Linked DNA regions of Homo sapiens. The protein of the gene in region 2 interacts with the protein of the main gene of each other region in a biochemical or structural test. Each region holds a gene or a part of one and is shown on either strand. Other genes may lie near its edges.

Region 1 (4,432 bases), on a different chromosome or scaffold from region 2:
AGCCTAGGCTAGGGGCACCTCCGAGAGCCCCTTTTTGTGATAATGTTTTGCACTTTTTCGTACAGGGTGGGCGGGGGCGGGAGGGGCTAGCGCCCCTGAACTTTTGATGCTTTTTTTTTGTGTGGGAGAGGCCTGATGCCGTTTCTGCTTTCTGCTGAGACCACCCCCACCCTGACACCATCAGTCCCCCTCTGTCCTGGGGCCTGGCTTGGACAGAGACCAGGATTTGGGGCTGAGCTGGTTTCCCCTCCTTCCTCCCCAAGGGCTTACTCTTTCTCTTGCTGGAGGTGGAGGAAGGGCGTCCATGCCAAGGCCCCATACCTGGGCCGGGGGCAGCACGGCCTGGCTTTCCCCCGCTTCAGTGGGCCTTGCCCTTTGTACAGCCTCCACCCCCATTAAAACTGCTCTGGACTTGCTGGCTGGGCCTCCTCCTTCTCTTCTCACCATGCCTGGCATGTGGGCAGGGTGGGTAGCTGGTTCCAGGGACAAGAGTCACATCAGGGGCTGCCATAAGTTGGGAAGGAGGGGTCCTCCCCTTCCCATGAGAATCCTTTATTTGTCCCAACTGAGGGGTGGGTGTGGGGTGTTAAATAAGATTTGAAATAGGTGGGGACGCTGTACAGGGGGTCCGGGAAGGGGGCTGGGGGCAGGCAGCAGGTCAGTGCACCTGAGGCTGGGGGTGCCCGTGGCAGAGCCCTCCTGGTGGCTCAGGGGGTGGGCCCAGCTTCTCTGCCTCCTGCTCCACTGACTGGCTCCCGTACGCACTGTCTTCCTTCACCTCTGCTGGGGGTAAATGGGGACAGGAATGGGATAGTCAAAGCCTCAGGCCTCCGGCCCTCCAGGTCCAGATCCACCTTCCAGGGAGGCCCCTTTACCTGTGCTGGGCAGCTTGTCTCGGGTTTCTGGACCCCTCAGCAGCCTCACTCCCTCCTCTAGGCCCATGTCAGACAGGGCCTCCAGTAGACCTGCCAGGTCCCCGCCAGCCAGCTGAGAAGACAGAGGAATGAGGTCTGAGTCATGGTTAGGGCATGTGCTCGGGAGCCCTGGGGCCAAGGAGGCACCTGGACTCAGATCGGGAAAGGAGGCTGGGGAGGGGGCAGGGCACAGGCCAACCCACCTCGTAGCTGCGCAGGAGGCTGCCACTGGGTGAGGTTGTCTGTCGGTACGTGTCTACCAGGCTGCGCAGCCCCAGACGCTCTGCCAGCTCTGCCCAGCTGCCCTGGGCTTCTGGCCCGTCTAGCAGCTGCTCCAGGTTCTGCAGAGCTGTATCACCAAGTGACAGTCCCGGCCCTTAGGGGGACACACATACAGACATGTCATTTACCTCCAGAGTTGGGTGGGGACATGGACACCTGAACACTGCCTTTCTCCCAAGGTAAGCGACAGACAGGACCATGAGGGGTGATGGACGGGGCTGAGGGTAGAGAAAGGGAGGCCTCCTTCAGAGGTCCTGAAGGAGAAGAGACCTCTGTGAGGAGTCAGAGGAGTCGGGCTGGGGATGCCTGATGCTTCTCACCTGCTGGGCTGGGCGGGGTCAGGGGTGGCTCCATGGTGTTCTGAGCAGCATTTAGCAGCAAGGTCTTCACCTGGGGAGACAGCCGCAGTTCTGACTACCTCCCACCTCGTCCTTAAGCCTGTGTCTTTAAGTCCAGATACTCTGGACCCCGTCACTCAGAGCACTTCTAGTCCCGGGCTGGCCTCACCTTGGTGCTGCAAGTGAGGTCAAGAGGCGTGTGGCCCCGGAAGCTGCTTCGGGTGTCCTTCTCAGGCCCTTCAGAGTCCGAGTCGCTATCAGAGGTAGGGGGTGAAGGCAGTGGGCACAGGGGCTCCTCGTTTTCAGCATGGATGTCAGCACCTGGGAGAGGGAGGCCGTCATGGGGCGGTATGGTGGGGGCCTACATTAAGGACTGCAAAGTCGGGGGACTGGGAGGCACCTCTCTCCCTTCCCCCCACCCTGTTCAAGTGCCCCTGAGGGTGAGACTGACCAGCCTTCAGAAGGAGGCGGGTGAGGGTCGGGTACCCCAGTCCAGCTGCCAGGTGCAGGGGTGTGTTTCCCGCAAAGGTGCGAGCGTTCACGTTGGCCCGGAGCTGGGGGTGCGAGCAGCGAGAGTTGACACCACAGCATGGTCCCCTTGGCCAGCCCCCCCCTTCACCATCTTTGGCCCCTCCACCACCCTTGGCCCCACTCCTTCCACAATCCTCAGTCCCACCTTGGTGACCAGATGGGTGACCAACCCCAGCTCCTCCATCTCTGTGGCTAGATGCAAGGCTGTTCGTCCCCCCTGCCGCTCTGTGGCCTCCACTTCAGCCCCACTGTCCACCAGCAGATCCAGGCACTCAGGGCTTCGGGCTCGGACTGCCAGGTGTACTGGATACAGTCCTAAGGATGCAGGATGCTCAACCTGCAGCTGTGACCCTTAAGGCAGCCCCTGGACCAGCCCTGACCATTCAATCTCGACACCTCATAGTCCATTCTGGGCACTGGCCAGATACCCTCCCTGGTCCCCGCCTGCCCCCTTAGTCAGGTGAGATGGGGAGCTCACCCTCAAAGTCAGGCATATGCAACAGCTGGGGCACAGCAGGAGCTCCACTCTGAAGCAGTGCACGCAGCAGCTCAGGAGCACCAGCGCCTGCCCGCAGCGCCAGATGCATGGCTGAGTCTCCATGCCGATCCAGCAGAGCTGGGTCTGCACCTACCCGCAGCAGAAAGCTCACCACACTCGTCTGCCCCGTGATCACCGCCAGGTGCAGGGGCGTCTGGGGATGAAAGCAGGGTGAGCCAGGCCCGAGACCCACTTGCCTTCCAACCCCTCCCACCTCCCCAGTAGGCGCCCCCGCACCTGGTGCAGGTGGTTGGTGAGGTTGACAACGCCGAGGTCCTGGGCGTGGTGGATGACATAGACTATCTGCTCAATGACACTGGTCTGCCCGTGGATGATGGCTAGGTGCAGTGGTCTGGGGGTTGGGGAGCGAGAGTCTGGCCCAGCCACTCAGAGCATCCTTCGCTTTCAAGGCCCCACCGCCCTCATAGTCTCCCTCGCTGGGGCCCATGGAACCCAGCACGTGGCCCAGGGCATCGCTGTGCCTGCACTTAACGTTTCGCAGCACCTTTTGAGGTAGGTAAGTGCTATGACTGTACCCCTTGCACGGTCGACCAAACTGAAGTTTGGAGAGACCAAGCAGCTTGAACAGAGCTTGTGAACACCGAGGCCGGACTTGAAGCCTGGCGTGTCCGAAAACTGCAGAGCCCGCCTCCGTGCCGGTCCCTTTCCTGCCCCCACCCCGCGCCTCGTCCGCCAGGCCCTCTGTTGCCTACGTGTCTCCGTTCTCGTCCTGCGCCGTCAGCAGGTGGCGCTGTCCCGCCAGCAGCGCGCGCGCGTCCGCGGTGACGCCGTAGTCGAGTAGGGCTCGGGCGCTGCGCTGCGCCAGGCCGAACAGGCGCGCGTTGTACTCTCGAGCTACGGGCCACAGAGGGCGTGGGTCAGGGCTAGGTCCTCAGCCCCGGCGCCCCGACCGCCCGTGCCCCGGAGTCCATACCTCGCTGCAGCATCTCCGGGGCCTGCGGCTCGCACTGGGGGGTCCTGGAGGGGGCGCTTGGCTCCGCGGCTTCCTCCCCGGAGTCCCTGCTGGGCACCGTGGCGGCCATCTGCGCCCCGCCCCCGCCTCCCGGGTAGCAGCCCATGGGGCCCGCGCCGGACTGGTAGGGGCTGTAGGCCAGGGAGGAGGGGAAGAAACCGAGGCTGCCACCTGTGGATACAGGCAGGGCTGTGGGAAGCGGGCACCAGCCATGACTCTCCCAGATTTTTTTTTTTTTTTTTTGAGACGGAGTTTCGCTCTTATTGCCCAGCCTGGAGTGCAGTGGTGTGATCTCAGCTTACTGCAACCTCTTGTCTCCCAGGGTTCAAGCGATTCTCCTGCCTCAGCCTCCCGAGTAGCTGGGATTACAGGCGCCTGCCACCATGCCCAGCTAATGTTTGTATTTTTAGTAGAGACGAGGTTTCACGCTGTTGGCCAAGCTGGTCTTGAACTCCTGATCTCAGGTAATCTGCCTGCCTTGGCCTCCCAAAGGGCTGGATTACAGGCGTGAGCCACCACGCCCGGCCTCCCCCAGATTTTTTTCCTCCACAGCTTCTCTTACCTTTACCCCTCCCTCCATCAGTACCCCCTCACCTCCTCCAGCTCCTCCGTAGCCCCCGGCTGCACCCCCAGAGCCTCCACCCATGTGGGAGCCACCCCCGAAGGGCTGGGAGAAGGTGGGCAAGGCCTTCCTCCGCTTCCGCTGCACCTCTTCCTTGTCTGGGGGCAGAGGAAAATGAGATTGAGCCCAGTTATTGTGTCATGCCTCAGGGGCCCTTCCCAGAAGAGCCCTCAGGGCCGGCTCCTAGGAAGCACCTCCTGGGACCCTCGCACTTCTGACTTGGCTCATGCATCC
Region 2 (7,411 bases):
GACTGGTATGGCTGCTGGGAATGGCTGCCAGGGCACAAACAGGTATCTGGGCATAACATTCTCTCGCCACCAACCTGGTAAAGGTTATTTTGAATGTCCAGGACCTCCTGGGGCAGCAAAGCCAGGCAACAGAGCAGCACCGCTGGGGCCTCATGAATCACTGCCAGGTGGACCAGCCTAGGGGAGCAGAGGCGGGGCTTAGAGTTAAGGGCCCAGGCCAGAGGGAGTGGGTTGGGGTCTTGGAGTTAGAAGGAACACATCAAACTTTAACTAGCTACCCATAGGGTAGGTCCAGGAAGTGAGAGTGTGGGCCAGGAAGTGAGGGTTGGTGTGGGAAGCCAGGATCCTAGGGTTGGAGCTCCAAGTTCCCACTGCTGGCCTTCAGGAGGGCCTTGGCTGGGTGGGCATGTGGGCAGGGTGCTGACAGGACAACAGCCTTCCTGTCCAGCCTGCCCACACCCACTCCTCTTTGCCCTCAGGGCTCTGCCGAGCCAGCTGCAGCTCAAAGCCAAATTGAAAGCTGCCGAAGTAGTCCAGAGGGGGTTTCCAGGGCTAAGCACCCCACCACCCCAGCACACAGGAAAGAAGGAGACAGTTGCAGGGTCACCCCGTACCCCCAAGCAACTCAGTGTTACACATTCCAAGGGAGAGACACAGAAACTCTTGGAAGAGGAGCAAGGAGACAGTGCAGCATCCTGTCCTGCTGCCCTTCCCTGGGAGTCAAGAGGCACCTCTCAGATAGCACAGACCAGGTCGGGCCTAACAGAGGCCCTCCATTCCTGTGTGCACCTCCAAGAGGAGGTCTTTGTAGTGCAGAAAATGTATTTGTTGAGGGGGCCAAGAACCTTAATCTAGGGGTAATGGGGGCAGTTGGGAGGGGAAGTTCCAGTCTTGGGGTTTCCCCACGTCAGGTGGGGAAAACGAAAGCCAGTGATGGAGGGTCTAGGCCGGGACAGCTGCCTTGGGGCATTAGTGAGGGGGGTAGATTGGCTAAAAGGCCCGTCTGGGCTGGGGAGGGGGCTGCTTGGGCAGGAGGGTGGCAGGCTTTAGCAGCAGGCAGCAGGAGAGGCCCAGGAGAGTGACGGAGGGAGGGAGGAACTGCTCTGGAAATCCCCTAGGCCAGGGCCTGCTCTCTGGGTCACATTCTTGCAGCCACCTCCCTCTCTCCCCCAGTATCCCCTCCTCCCACTTCCTCTTCCCACTTCCATACCTCCCACAGCCCAGACACCTCCAACAGAGGGAGGAAAGTGCCCCCTGCTCTCTGGGGACTCGCTGGGGAGCCCGGACATTTCTCCCCTCCACACACACACCCAATCTGGACACAACACCTGCTTCTAACTAGAGATGGAAAAGGCTGGGGCTGAGAGGCTAACAAAAGACGGCAATGTCAAAAGTCCCCTCTCCTTGGATCAAAGGTCATCAGAGGTATCTTGCGTGCAGCCCCCAAAACCTTGGGGTTCTGGGCCTGAGGGCTGGTGATCCAGGCAGAGTACAGAAAGGACTGGGTCACTCCTCTCCCACCCACTGGGTCCACCAGCTGTCTTTATCAATGGCCACCCAGGATTAGGACCCTGCATCTCCAAAAAGCAGGTTAGGACAGCCACCTCCTGCCTCCCCTACTCCTATTTATATGAGCACCCTTGACCAGGGATTCCAGCCCTCCCCAACTCTATTTCTCATCCCCAGTTCCCAACCTTTCCCTCCTCTGTCAATGTTTTCTTCTTCCTGGGGGGCTAAATCCTCAACTGGCCAACCCATCCCACACAACTGCCTTTTACTTCAACTGCCCTCTGGCCCACTCCCACCAAACTCCATCTGGGTCTGGAGGAGGAAGGGTTAAGTGAGGGAGTGAGACACGACAGTTAGTGGGACTGGGGGCTCTGGAGGTAGAGGATGTCAGGGACGCTGACTCTAGCCCTCACTTCCCCTTTCTTAGCAGAGGAGGAAGTAAGCTGGGGCAGCCAGCCGCCTGTCTGTCTGCTGGGGCAAGAGTGCCCCAGCCTGGCTCACCCCATCCTCCTGAGGACCAGTCCCAAACCTACACCCTGGTGGCACCCCCCATGCCTAGCTTCCTGGCCCCGACTGGCAACCTGTAACTGGCACCTGTTGTTCCTTGAGACAGAGCATTCTGAGGTCAGGAACTGGGAATCCCAGATATTGAGCAAATAAGGATGTCCCCTTCCCCAGCAAGAAGAAACAAAAAAACTGGACTTGGTCAGGGGAATTTTCTCTTCCTAAGGGTGGATTATTGGTAGATTTCCAAGATGCTGGCTGGGTTAAGGGTCCTGCCAGCTCTGCCCACCCCGAAATGGGAGGACAGAGATGATTCCATGGCCTAGCTGGACCTCAAAAGTGGGCTGAGAGTTAAGTCTGGAGTTTGGAAGAGCGAATGGGGACTTGAAGGATCTTCACGGGGGAGTGGGGGTGCCCGACCTGTTGCGGCTCTTGGGCAGGCCCAGAGTTAGCATCCCGATTCAGCCTAGCCCCCATACTCACGTGTCTCCGTCCTCGGAGATGTAAGTGAGTGCTTCCAGCTGCTGAGGGCTCAGCGCCCCCACGTGGGGGAGTGGCAGGCGTGGGGCCGGGTCCTCAGCCTCGGGGCCCCCCAGCAAGGACAGGGTGTAGGTGAGCGAGGAGGAGCCATAGGTGGAATCAGCCCGCTCCCCATCCGCGTCTTCCTTCTCCTGTGGTTCCTTGACGGGTCCCGGAGGATGGGTGCAGGGCTGGGGGCTGCCGTCCGAGGGCCCGGAGGCTGGAGCCGAGGTGGACTCGGGTAGGGAGCGCAGAGAGCGCAGAGACTCAATGCCAGAGTCGTACTGGCTCTCCTCCGCCTCGTCCGGCCCCTTCCGCGCCTCCGACATGCCCGCGGCTCTGGCCGGCCGGGGCCCGGTCTGAGCAGGATCCGGCTCCAGGCTCCGCCGCGCCGCCTTTCCGGGTTGCGGGTCCGCTTGGCAGAGCGGGCGCCCGGCCCGCGGCGGCCTCCTTCCCGGGCTGTGGGGCTCCGAGGGGCCGGCGCGCAGCGAGGACAAGGTTCGGAGCGCTGGCCAGGTCCACCCAGCGGTTACTGTGGGCAGCCGAACCGCCCAAGCGGGTCCTCCTCCTCGCCCCGCCCCTCCGGACCAACAGGGTCGCCTCACGCGGATGGCCCCGCCCCCTCCCCGCCCCCGGCGGGCGCTTCCGGAAAGAGGCCCCGCCCCTCCGGAATCCCCCTTCCCGGGCTCTGCGTAGGCTTGGAGTCTGTGGTTCCCGGGCCTTGACTCACTCCTTCGTTGATTCATTCACTCATTCATTCATTCATTCATTCACTCTTTCCCCCTTCCTCCTTCACTCCATTCATTAGTTCCACGCATGTACTGTTTCCTTCTTTCACTTCTATTTCTTAATTCATTTGTTTTATTTTTATTTTTTATTTTTTTGAGACGAAGTCTTGCTCTGTTGCCCAGGCTGGAGTGCAGTGGTTGATCTCTGCTCACTGCAACCTCCGCCTCCTGGGTTCAAGCGATTCTCCTGCCTCAGCCTTTCGAGTAGCTGGGACTACAAGTAGAGACGGGGGTCTCGCTACGTTGCCCAGGCTGGTCTCGAACTCCTGGGTTCAAGCGATCTGCCTGCCTCGGACTACCAAAGTGCTGGGATTACAGGCTGTGAGCCACCGGTCCCGGATCATTCATTTGTTTTAAAAGAAATATCTATTAATTGTCCGTACAAGCTGGCATCTTTGGGGGAGGGCATGTAGGCGATGGGATGGGGAAGCACTGCTTCCTATCCCCTGCCCATTTATCTCAATTTCTCTTGCTTTCTCATCTTTCCCTATCAGTGCCCAGGGGTACGGGTAGGGAAAGGGGACTCCCATTATCTTTAAAGGAGCAGTTCTCCTGGGTCCTGGAAGACAGTCTCCTGTGTCAACGTCCCACATCACATGGAATTGGGCATGAAAATGTTTTTTTGGAAAGAGCGTCTTCTCAGGGAAACTGTTGTCTAAAAAGTAAAGTGGTTGTGGAGTTTCTTCTTCCTCAAAGGGTGAAACCCTGGCCTTGGGTAGTTACAGTTTCTGGTCAACCCCAGCAGTCAAGGAAGTGGGGTCAGGTTGGGGAGGCCCCAGACATGCTGGGTTGCACTCTGCTCAGGTCCCCAACACAGCCCCAATCTTAGTCCCAAAACATCTTTCCTCTTTCACTGTCCCTGGGCCTAGGAAGGCCGTGGGAGCACCCTACTACAAGTGAGCCCTAAGCCCATGCTCCATGATTTATTCCCTCATTCCTCCCCACTATTCCAAGTGCTATCAGCCTAACGCCAGCAATGCCCTTAGAGGGTTATCCGCAAGGGAACATGTAGCTTTTCCATCTCCAGCATTGGAGAAAGGAAGGTGGATGAGTGTAGACAGCAACGTTTTGCAGGGGGGAGGCCAGCTTTCCCACAGCCCTTCCCCTGCAACCTCATTTTATTCATCCATCATTCACCTACTTGACAAACATGTATGGAAGGTCTCCTGTAATGTCTGACGTTGTTCTTTCTACTGGAAGCAAAACTGACTATCACAGTAATAACCAATAACCACCCCCCATGACCAACAAAAAAATCCCATGGTCCTAAAAAAGCTCCTTGGCAATTACAGCTCAGAGTGGTTGGGATAAGACAGAAGTGAGAACAGGGTGTTGTGGGGGCACACAGTGGGGCCAGCTACTCAGTGGGGTGAGAGGCAAGGAAGCTTCCATTTGAACTGAGAATGGGAAGGGAAGAGAGATAGGGAGAGGAGAAGGACCTAGTCTGTGGGGGGCGATTGGAGGCAGAAGAGTTGGGGGAGGGCTGAGGGGAGAAGATGGCCCACTGTTCTTCAACCCCATGTAGGACCAGAGTGGGAAAGACGTAATGAGCATGAAGCCCAGTGAGGAGCCACGAGGGGAAAGGCCTGGGAAATTGAAGCATCTCCTTCCCTTGAGTCAGCATGATTTCAGATGTTCTCAGTCTCCTCCCCTGACATGTTCCTCTCCGGTCCTCAAAGGCTGCAGCAAAAGTATAGTAATAAACTCCAGACCCAGACCAACTGGGTTCAAAATTTGGCCGAGCGCGGTGGCTCACGCCTGTAATCACGCCTATAAACTTTGAGAGGCTGAGGTGGGTGGATCATTTGAGGTCAGGAGTTCAAGACTGGCCTGGCCAACATGGCGAAACCTCATCTCTACTAAAAATACAAAAAGTAGCTGGGCCTGGTGGCACATGCCTGTAATTAATCCCAGCTACTTGGGAGGCTGAGGCAGGAGAATCACTTGAGGGTGGAGGTTGCAGTGAGCTGAGATCACACCACTGCACTCCAGCCTGGGCAACAGAGTGAGACTCAGTCTAAAAACAAAAACAAAAACAAAAAAATCCACACGAAATCTGACACTATCATCCCCATTTTAATGTTGGGAAACTGAGGCCCAGAGAGGTGAGTTGACTTGCTCAAGTTAAAATAGAAAGTGCAGAGATGGCTTCTCATCTAATCCAAAACTTTTACATATTTTTTAGTGGAACCTTCTTTTCTTTATCAAGAGGTAAACCACATAGGGTGGGAGTGTCTGAGCCCTCTGCAAGGATGTAAGAACTCAGGAGTGTGCAAGGACCTCCTTTTTATTCATACAGAGGCTGAATTTTAGGAAAAACCCACTTAACCCAGCCAGGTGTTTGGCTCTGAGCCGTAACAGGTGTGTGGCAGTCCCTTTTATGGCCACATGAGGTCAGCATTGAGTCACCCACTGGCCCCACTACCAGAGCTTGCACTCTTGACAGGAATCCTTTCCAACACTCCAGGAATGGGGAGGGGGACCATTGCAGTGTTATCTGAAAGGGTGACCTGGGGACTTTGACTTAGGCCACAGCATGGCTAGGGACCTGACCTCGCCTCCTCAGCTCCAGTCTTCTCTGAGGCTGGGCCCCTCGTCTTTCTCTCTGTTGTTTTCTGGTTCCCTTTGTGCCCCCACTCCCCACCTCCACCCACCCCAGCTAGGCTCATCTTCAGGAAACAGGCCTGGTTTCCATGGTGACCAGCCGGTCAGCTGGCTCCTTCCACCGCCCCCTCCTTCACCCCCCTTTCTTGTAGCTTCCAGGGAAGGGTACTGTGTGTGAATGGAGAAGGCAGGGGTAGCCTTTTGTCTCTTGGGAGCTCTAGCATTGGCCAAAAAGAGCTAAACTGTCCCTCCTCCAAAGCCCTTTGAAGTGGAGACAGGAAGGCAGTGGGGGTGGGTGTCAAGAGGAAGATTATGGTGCCTAAATGGGGAGCACGAAAGGATCCTCTGTGGGTTTGGAAAGGCCAAGGTTAGGGGCTCTGCTCTCTGTGGGGGAAGGGGTTGAAACTGGAACAAGAGGGGCTGGAGTTAGCTGTGAGGCCAGCTTCCCAAAAAGCATGGGCAGGAGATGCTGGAATGAACCACCAAGTGAGATTCTGCCTCTGCCAAGGGAGTGAACCAGACCCCCGCCTCTTCTGGACAGCCGCCTTCCTCTGGGCAGGGAGAATGGACCCATCAACCTGGAGAGGACCATGCAGGCTGGATAGCTCTAAGCAATAGGTGGACAGAGAGCCACCTTCACCTCACCTGGAAAGGGAAGAGTAGTAAAATGAAGGCAGGGCCAGGAGTGGGACTAGAGGGGTGGGAGCAGTGGCTCTCCTGTCCCCAACAAGGGGAAGGAACATCCTGGGCAGATCAGTGTGTTTGTACCCTATCCCCCAAAATCAGACATCGAGGCTTTGCCCCAAACTAACTTCCTACCCACAAATATTCCCCATAGATTTTGAGTGGGAAAGATCTGAATTCTAGGACTAGCTCTGTGAGTGCTAGCAGGTGACCTTGAGTAAGCCATTCACTCTCCCTCTGCCTTGGTTCCCTGTGAGTAATTGGGGAGAACAGTTACTGTATGTCAAAGACTCTAATGACACATAGTAGGATTCCACAGTGACTGTGTATGCACAAGATTGATCATGCATGGCTTTTATTATATTCTTCATAATGGTTGTTTTTCATGTTCTTTTCTCCCCATTAGACTTTGTGCTCCTTGCAGGAAGGAAACTGTGTTTCATTTCTGTACTGGGCACACAATAGGTACCCAACACCTGTTTACTGAATGGAGACATCCAGAAATGAATGAATGAATAAATGTCAGGGTCCTTCCTGCTGTGCCAGGGGATACAGGGAAAAGCAGTGTGGGGTGGATGGCCTGAAAGGATAGGCTGCCTGCAGTGGCTCAGCCTGGCTTGCTTCCTACACCTACAAGTCAGAGCCTTAGAAATTGTCCAGTCAACTTCCTCACTGCACAGATGAAGAAATTAAGGCTCAGAGACAGGAAGGCACTTGCCCAAGGTCACATAACTCCTTAATGACAGATACAGAATTCAGAATTAGAACTCAGGTTTCCTGCCCTCCAGCCTAGGGTATTGCAC
Region 3 (7,112 bases), on a different chromosome or scaffold from region 2:
AGTGGCACGATCTCGGCTCACTGCAACCTCTGCCTCCTGGGCTCAAGCAATTCTCCTGCCTCAGCCTCCCGAGTAGCTGGGATTACAGGCATGTGCCACCACGCCTGGCTAATTTTTGTATTTTTAGTAGAGACGGGGTTTTACCATGTTGGCCAGGCTGGTCTCGAACTCCTGACCTCAGGTAATCCACCCACCTCAGCCTCCTAAAGTGCTGGGATTACAGGCGTGAGCCACTGCACCCAACCTATTTTTTTATTTTTTATTTTAAAGAGACGGGGTCTCACTATGTTGCTCACGTTGGTCTCAAACTCCTGGGCTCAAGTGATCCTCCCACCTTGGCCTCCCAAAATGCTGGGATTACAGGTGTGAGCCACTGCACCTGGCCTTTCCTCTCCAGCCTTTGCCCCCTCTTGACTCCTCCTGAAATTCCTTTGCTCCATTATTGCCTATCAGAAGCTTCCCTGCTCCTCAAGCCCCAGCAAGGCTGCCCTGGACACTCGCATGAGTCTCATCTCTGCCAGCTGTGCCTCCTCAGCTGCACCCTTCTCACGGCACCTCCTGCTTTCCCCCTCCTGCCAAACCCGTGTCTTACTCTCCACGGGTGATACAGGGCCACCCTCAGGCACGTCTGTGTCCCCCCAGAGCCCAGCCTGTGGCAGCTTCATAGGGAAGAGGACTCTGGTCTCATCCCAGACCTCACAGGGAGAAGGAAGGGAAGGTAGAAGGTCAGGGCCCAACAGGGACAGCAGGCTCTCTCTACCCAGCACTTCAGGCTGTGGGGCAGTCCTTCCTTCAGCGGGGTGAGAAAGACGCTACCCACTCTCCCGGCTGAGGCAGAAGGCCCTGCCGCTACCATGAACAGCTCTGGGGTACAGGGAGAGAACGAAGGCCTGTGTCCCCTCCTTTCAGGGTGCCTAAGGGGCCCCAGCAGCCTCTTCCCCCTGCCATGGGGCAGACACCACACACAGGCCCTCTGGTGCCTGGCAGAAGGACCTAACAGTTGGTGGGGGCTCACCTGTGGTGAAGAGGTGCTTGACGGGCTGGTCTGGGGGGCTCTTCATGCCCCCAGGGGCAGCAGGGGAGGACTGGGTACGGCCCAGGGCCTGGTGGGGCACAGTGGCCAGGCTGAGGGGCGCCTGGTACACCTGCAAAGGCTGCAGCGGCTGGGCATCTGAGAACAGCTGGAGGGGAGAATGGGAGGGGGCCTGGGTCAGACTCAGCCAGGACAGGGGTGAGGGCAGGCCCTGTCAGGGCCTCCAGTGGGGCCCCAATCCAGCCCTTTTCTTCCAAGTCTCCTTCCCCCACCTCCTCCCACTTGCTCCCTCCAGGGACAGGAGACACATCTCCTCTGAGATGGGGAGGGATGGGGGAGATGTGATGAGTCACATCAAAGAGTAGCATTGAGGTAAGAGGCTGGGAGGGGTGGGGGCGGGGGCGGGGTGGGGGCGGGATGAGTCAGGCCCGGAGGGCTCGGCTGTGTCCGCAATGAATGGAGTGCCAGCTAGGCGCGAGGCAGACAGTAGTAACAGCGGGGGCGTGTGTGTACACACACGCACAGGCACGCACAGGGACCGACGCATGCATACACAGACACACAAGCAGAGAGGCAGGCCAGTATCACAGACACAGGGAGGGAACTGGCAGCCTAGGACAGACACAACTCTGAGATCAACACAAACAGCTCCCCCTTCTCCCCACCGGCCTCCTTCCCACTCCCCTTTTGCTCTCTACAGAAAGCTGCTCCTGCACAGCCTGGAAACTGCAGATGGGGGAGAGGGAAAGACAAGGGCAGAGGCAGGGGTGGAGAAGGACAGAGGGGTGGTGACCAAGGACTGGGACCAGGGACGGGGCTCACTTTTTTGTATCCAGCACCAGGCTCCTCCAAGTCGGGCCCCTCCTCAGCACCACTCTCGCCCTCCTCGTCCTTAACCTGGATGCAATCCTCCTCCTCCTCCCCATCGTCTTCCTCGTCCTCCTCCTCCAGGTCTTCCTGTGTGCTCTCACTCTCTGTGGAGCCCTCCCGGGGCATGGTCAGGGCTCCCTCCCCCAGCAAGACCTCCTGCTGCTCCGTCAGCTCCTCCTCTGTCTCCTCAGGGTGGGTGGTGGGCTGCCTGGGCAGCTCCCCTGTCTTGGTGAGGATCTGATAACAGAATATGGGGGCACATCAGCTGGGAGTTGGGGAGCAGCTGTGCAGCCTAAAACCCAGAACAGTCTATCCTTCCCTCCCTCCCTTCTTCCAGGTAGAGCTTCTATGTGAATTAGAAAAAGGTGAGGTAGCTCCTCTGAGAGGACTTTTTTTTTTTTTGAGACAGAGTCTCCCTCTGTCGCCCAGCCTGGCATGCAGTGGCACGATCTCGGCTCACTGCAACCTCCGCCTTCCAAATTCAAGCGATTCTCCTGCCTCAGCCTCCCCAGTGACTGGGGTTACAGGCGCACGCCACCACGCCCAGCTAATTTTTGTTTGTTTTTTTGAGACGGTCTCGCTCTTCTCACCCAGGCTGCAGTGCAATGGTGCGATCTGGGCTCAGTGCAACCTCCATCTCCCAGGTTCAAGCAATTCTCCTGCCTCAGCCTCCCGAGTAGCTGGGATTATTATAGGTGCCTACCACCACGCCTGGCTAATTTTTGTATTTTTAGTAGAGACGGGGGTTTCACCATGTTGGCCAGGCTGGTCTCGAACTCCTGACCTCAGGCGATCTGCCCACCTCGGCCTCCCAATCAGGCGCGAGCCACCGTGTCTGGCCTGAAAGGAGGACTTTTCTGCCAGCCTGGTACTCTCCTGTGTCCTGCCCCCACCACAGCCCCAGGCCATTCACCTTTCCAGGCTCACCTTGCCCAGCTGTAGCTGCTGCTGCTTCTGCTTCTCCAGGAACTGCTGGTGCTGTTGTTGCATGACCAGCTGCTGCAGGGCCTGGGGACTCTGCGGCAGCGGTGAGGACTGAGTGCGGCTCAGGGGCCGATGCCGCGGGAGCTTGCCTACCGTCCGCATGCTGGTGGCCACACGTTCACCCGTCACTAGTGGGGACTGCCCGTGGAGTGGCACTACGGAGTTGGGGGTGATGACTAAGCACCATTGTCAGGGCACCTGACTGCCCTCCCACCGACCCTGCATCTTGCCCCCACAACCCCCTCTGGCATATCACCACCTATATACTCAGGAAAAACCCTGGGGGACCTGAAGCACCCCCCACCCAAACCTGAGCTCCATTCTTCCTCTTCCCCATGAATGAAGAGTTTCACAGCTCTAAGGTACCACCTCCAGCAAGCCTTCCTGGATTCACCATCTTTTCCCTTCGATTTCCTTAACTGAATAAACTGAGTATACATTTAGTCTTGAGCCCTCTGAACGAACAATGACTTTTCTCCCTAAGTGCAACAAGGCCTCCCTGATCATGGATCCTCCCCGTGGATCCCGCCAGGCTAGGAAGCCCTAGGGCCAGGATCATGTATCTTTCAAGCAGAACCTCTTCTGGTGCCAGGGCTCTTTAGACAGCCCTGGTACTTAAGGGCTGTCTAAAGTTGTGCTGTCTAGTCCCATAGCTACTAGTTACATGTGACTGCTGAGCCCTTGCACACAACCTGTCTAAACTGAAATGTGATATAAGTGTGAAGTATACACTAGATTTCAAAGAGTATGAAACAAAAACCAAAATATCTCATTGGTAACTGCATATTGGCCAGGCACAGTGGCTCACACCTGTAATCCCAGCACTTTGGGAGTCCAAGGCAGGGGGATGGCTTGAGCCCAGGAGTTCAAGACCAACCTGGGCAGCTGGGTGCGGTGGCTCACACCCGTAATCCCAGCGCTTTGGGAGGCCAAGGCAGGTGGATCACTTGAGGTCAGGAGTTCAAGACCAACTTGGCCAACATGGTGAAACCCCGTCTCTACTAAAAATACAAAAATTAGGCCAGGCGCAGTGGCTCACGCCTGTAATTCCAACACTTTGGGAGGCCAAGGCGGGTGGACCATCTGAGGTCAGGAGTTCAAGACCAGCCTGGCCAACGTGGTGAAACTTCTTCTCTAATAAAAATACAAAAAATTAAGCCAGGCATGGTGGCACATGCCTGTAATCCCAGCTACTTGGGAGGCTTAGGCAGGAGAATCACTTGAACTCGAGAGGCAGAGGTTGCAGTGAGCCGAGATCTTGCCACTGCACTCCAGCCTGGGCAACAAGAGTGAAACTTCGTCTCAAAAAAAAAAAAAAAAAAAAAAAAAAATTAGCTGGGTGTGGTGGCACACGCCTGTAGTCTTAACTACTCAGGAGGCTGAAGCAAAAGAACCGCTTGAAGCTTGAACCCAGGAGGTGGAGGGTGCAGTGAGCAGAGATCCTGCTTACTGCACTCCAGCCTGGGCAACAAAGTGAGATTCTGTCTCAAAAAAAAAAAAAAAAAAAGGATGAGCATGGCGGCTCACACCTGTAATCCCAGCACTTTGGGAGGCCGAGGCGAACGGATCACCTGAGGTCAGGAGTTCAAGACCAGCCTGGCCAAGATGGTGAAACCCCAGCTCTATTAAAAATACAAAAATTAGCCAGGCGCGGTGGCAGGCGCCTATAATCCCAACTACTTGGGAGGCTGAGGCAGGAGAATTGCTTGAACCCGGGAGGCAGAGGTTGCAGTGAGCCAAGATCACGCCACTGCACTCTAGCTTGGGCAACAGAGCGAGACTCAGTCTCGAAAAAAAGACCAGCCTGGGTAACATAGCAAGATCCTGTCTCTACAAAAATTAAAAAATAGAAAGAATAACTGCATATGTATTACCGAAATTGTAATATTCTGGATATAATGAGTTAAATATATGTGGTGAAATTAATTCCACTTGCTTCTCTTTTTTTTGAGACAGAGTGTCGCTCTGTTGCCCAGGCTTGGGTGCAATGGAGCGATCTCGGCTCACTGCAACCTCCGCCTCCTGGGTTCAAGCAATTTTCCTGCCTCAGCCTCCCGAGTAGCTGGGATTACAGGTGCCCGCCACCACGCCCAGCTAATTTTTGTATTTTTAGTAGAGATGGGATTTCACCATGTTGGCCAGGCTGGTCTCAAGCTCCTGACCTCAAGTGATCCACCTGCCTTGGCCTCCAAAGTGCCGGGCTCACAGGCTTGAGCCACCATGTGTGGCTCCACTTGCTTCTTTTAATTTTTTTATTTTTTTGAGACGGAGTCTCACGCTCTGTGCCCCAGGCTGGAGTGCAGTGGCACGATCTCGGCTCACTGCAAGCTCCGCCTCCCAGGTTCACACTGTTCTCCTGCCTCAGCCTCCTGAGTAGCTGGGACTACAGGTGCCCACCACCACGCCCGGCTAATTTTTTGTATTTTTAGTAGAGACGGGGTTTCACCATGTTAGCCAGAATGGTCTCAATCTCCTGACCTCGTGATCCACCCGCCTCAGCCTCCCAAAGTGCTGGGATTTCAGGCGTGATCCACCGCGCCCGGCCTTCTTTTTACATTTTTTAATGTGGATGCTAGAAATTACGTATGTAGATTGTGTTATGTTTCTACTGAACAACACTGCTCTGGGATGTGAACGCCAAGATGGCAGCAGATTTTGTCAAGAACAGTGCCTGGCATCCTGTAGGTATCCCATGTTTCCAGAATGTGGAAGAAATCACTGATGCTGTTGATTCTGCTAAGGGGAACTGTGACAGGGTTGGAGAGTATCCCTGACAGTTGGTCCTGACCTTAGCCCCCTCCCTTGCACAGCTACCTGTCCACTCACCAGCAATGAGGGTGCTCTGCTGCCGGGCCTGCTCCAGCAACAGCACATGCTGCAGCAGGGAGGCATGCCCGTGGGGGCTCCCGTCGCCCTCCAGTGCCACGCCCAGCAGGCAGCCAGGAATAGAGGATGTGCTCATGAACTTGCCGGTCAGCGTGCCACCCTGCCGCAGGGACTGGAGGGCCTGCCTCTCGGCCTCCTGCTGTGTCGACAGCTTCGGGGAGGCCTGGGGGGTGAAGGGAGGGGCTTATACAGCCTCAGTCCTGCCAACTTTGGACTAGCATCCCCATCTACCCACTATCTACCCCCCAAGCTCTGGGTAGGGCCAACAGATCTCCCTTAGGGCCTTGGAAGGGGAAAACCCCAGCTGGGGGCATGCAGGACCTGTGACCTCAACACCAGAGGGAAGATGGGGTATATGCCCTGTACTTACAGTGAGGTGTGAGTTGGTGACAGTGACCGTGGCCTGCAGCCCTAGGGAGATGTTGGGCAGAGAAGGAGACGTGTAGAGGCTGAACTGGTTGGGGGAGCTGTCCAGAGGGAGGGCTCGGTGCTGAGGGAGCATCTGGGGAGCAGTCAGAAGAGACAGGCATGAGAGTGCACAAAGGGGAGGCAACAAGGGAGGGCAACCTGGGGCCAAGGCCAAGGTCTCTGAATGGTGCCCAGTTCCCTCTACCCTGAGCTCCCACTGAGGGAGACTGAGCCATCAGGGCTCTTCATAGTCCTGTGGGACAAATTCCCCTTCAATGCAATTAAGTCCAAGCAAGGATCCTCCAGCCTATTCATGTGGGCAGAGAGGTCTCTGCTGGGCACTCAGGCAGACAGACTGGAAGGAGCTGCACTCTTTCTTCCATGGGAAGGAGCAACTCTGTCCCCGCCCCACCAGCCCCCAGCCAGGCCTGTACCTCAGTGGGGATGTTGGGGACTGAGCCAGTAAAGCCATTCTCAGCGATGGTGCTGTGGGAGCTGTTGGGAGAGCTGGGGCCGGAGCCGGGTGCGCTGTTACACACGGACGACGCTATAGGAGAAGTGGCTGTCACCTGGGCCTGCTGTGAACTACCCCCGACCCCTGATTCCCAGACCCTCAGAACAGGTACATGAGAGCAGCCCTTACCCCCAGGCCCGGCACCTGTGATCTCAACAGCTCTCTTCTTAAAGGTGCTAATAACAGTCCCATCCTTGCGACGCAGGAGGGGACTGCTTCTCCGCTCAGCCACCTTCTGTTTTAGCCTTGAACGCACTTTCAAGTTGGGTTCAGAGGCTGGAGAGAAGGTAACCGAGGTTCAGATACGCGCACAGCAGCACACATCTGCAGCTGAGCCCACTGGGGTCAGGGCTGACACTGCCACAAGCCCACCTCTGCCTCCCAGGAGCCATATTCTGGGAGGCCAGGTGGGGGACT

The links.
Region 1: the proteins of NFKBIE (region 2) and NFKB2 form a complex in vitro, tested with the Homo sapiens proteins (one study listed by BioGRID).
Region 3: the proteins of NFKBIE (region 2) and HDAC5 form a complex in vitro, tested with the Homo sapiens proteins (one study listed by BioGRID).

Annotation. Positions count from the first base shown.
Region 1 is NC_000010.11:102,398,603-102,403,034, reverse strand, and holds the end of NFKB2 (nuclear factor NF-kappa-B p100 subunit), read right to left. Parts: intron 4,297-4,432; coding exon 4,171-4,296; intron 3,748-4,170; coding exon 3,538-3,747; intron 3,459-3,537; coding exon 3,317-3,458; intron 2,956-3,316; coding exon 2,841-2,955; intron 2,758-2,840; coding exon 2,544-2,757; intron 2,381-2,543; coding exon 2,211-2,380; intron 2,089-2,210; coding exon 1,986-2,088; intron 1,856-1,985; coding exon 1,704-1,855; intron 1,587-1,703; coding exon 1,517-1,586; intron 1,291-1,516; coding exon 1,118-1,290; intron 988-1,117; coding exon 876-987; intron 784-875; coding exon 659-783; 3' UTR 511-658; downstream 1-510. UniProt on the Homo sapiens protein: NF-kappa-B is a pleiotropic transcription factor present in almost all cell types and is the endpoint of a series of signal transduction events that are initiated by a vast array of stimuli related to many biological processes such as inflammation, immunity, differentiation, cell growth, tumorigenesis and apoptosis.
Region 2 is NC_000006.12:44,262,486-44,269,896, forward strand, and holds the start of NFKBIE (NF-kappa-B inhibitor epsilon), read right to left. Parts: upstream 3,067-7,411; 5' UTR 2,862-3,066; coding exon 2,497-2,861; intron 178-2,496; coding exon 75-177; intron 1-74. UniProt on the Homo sapiens protein: Sequesters NF-kappa-B transcription factor complexes in the cytoplasm, thereby inhibiting their activity. Sequestered complexes include NFKB1-RELA (p50-p65) and NFKB1-REL (p50-c-Rel) complexes.
Region 3 is NC_000017.11:44,085,557-44,092,668, forward strand, and holds part of HDAC5 (histone deacetylase 5), read right to left. Parts: intron 6,972-7,112; coding exon 6,825-6,971; intron 6,729-6,824; coding exon 6,616-6,728; intron 6,276-6,615; coding exon 6,144-6,275; intron 5,937-6,143; coding exon 5,714-5,936; intron 3,043-5,713; coding exon 2,831-3,042; intron 2,141-2,830; coding exon 1,856-2,140; intron 1,182-1,855; coding exon 1,016-1,181; intron 1-1,015. UniProt on the Homo sapiens protein: Responsible for the deacetylation of lysine residues on the N-terminal part of the core histones (H2A, H2B, H3 and H4).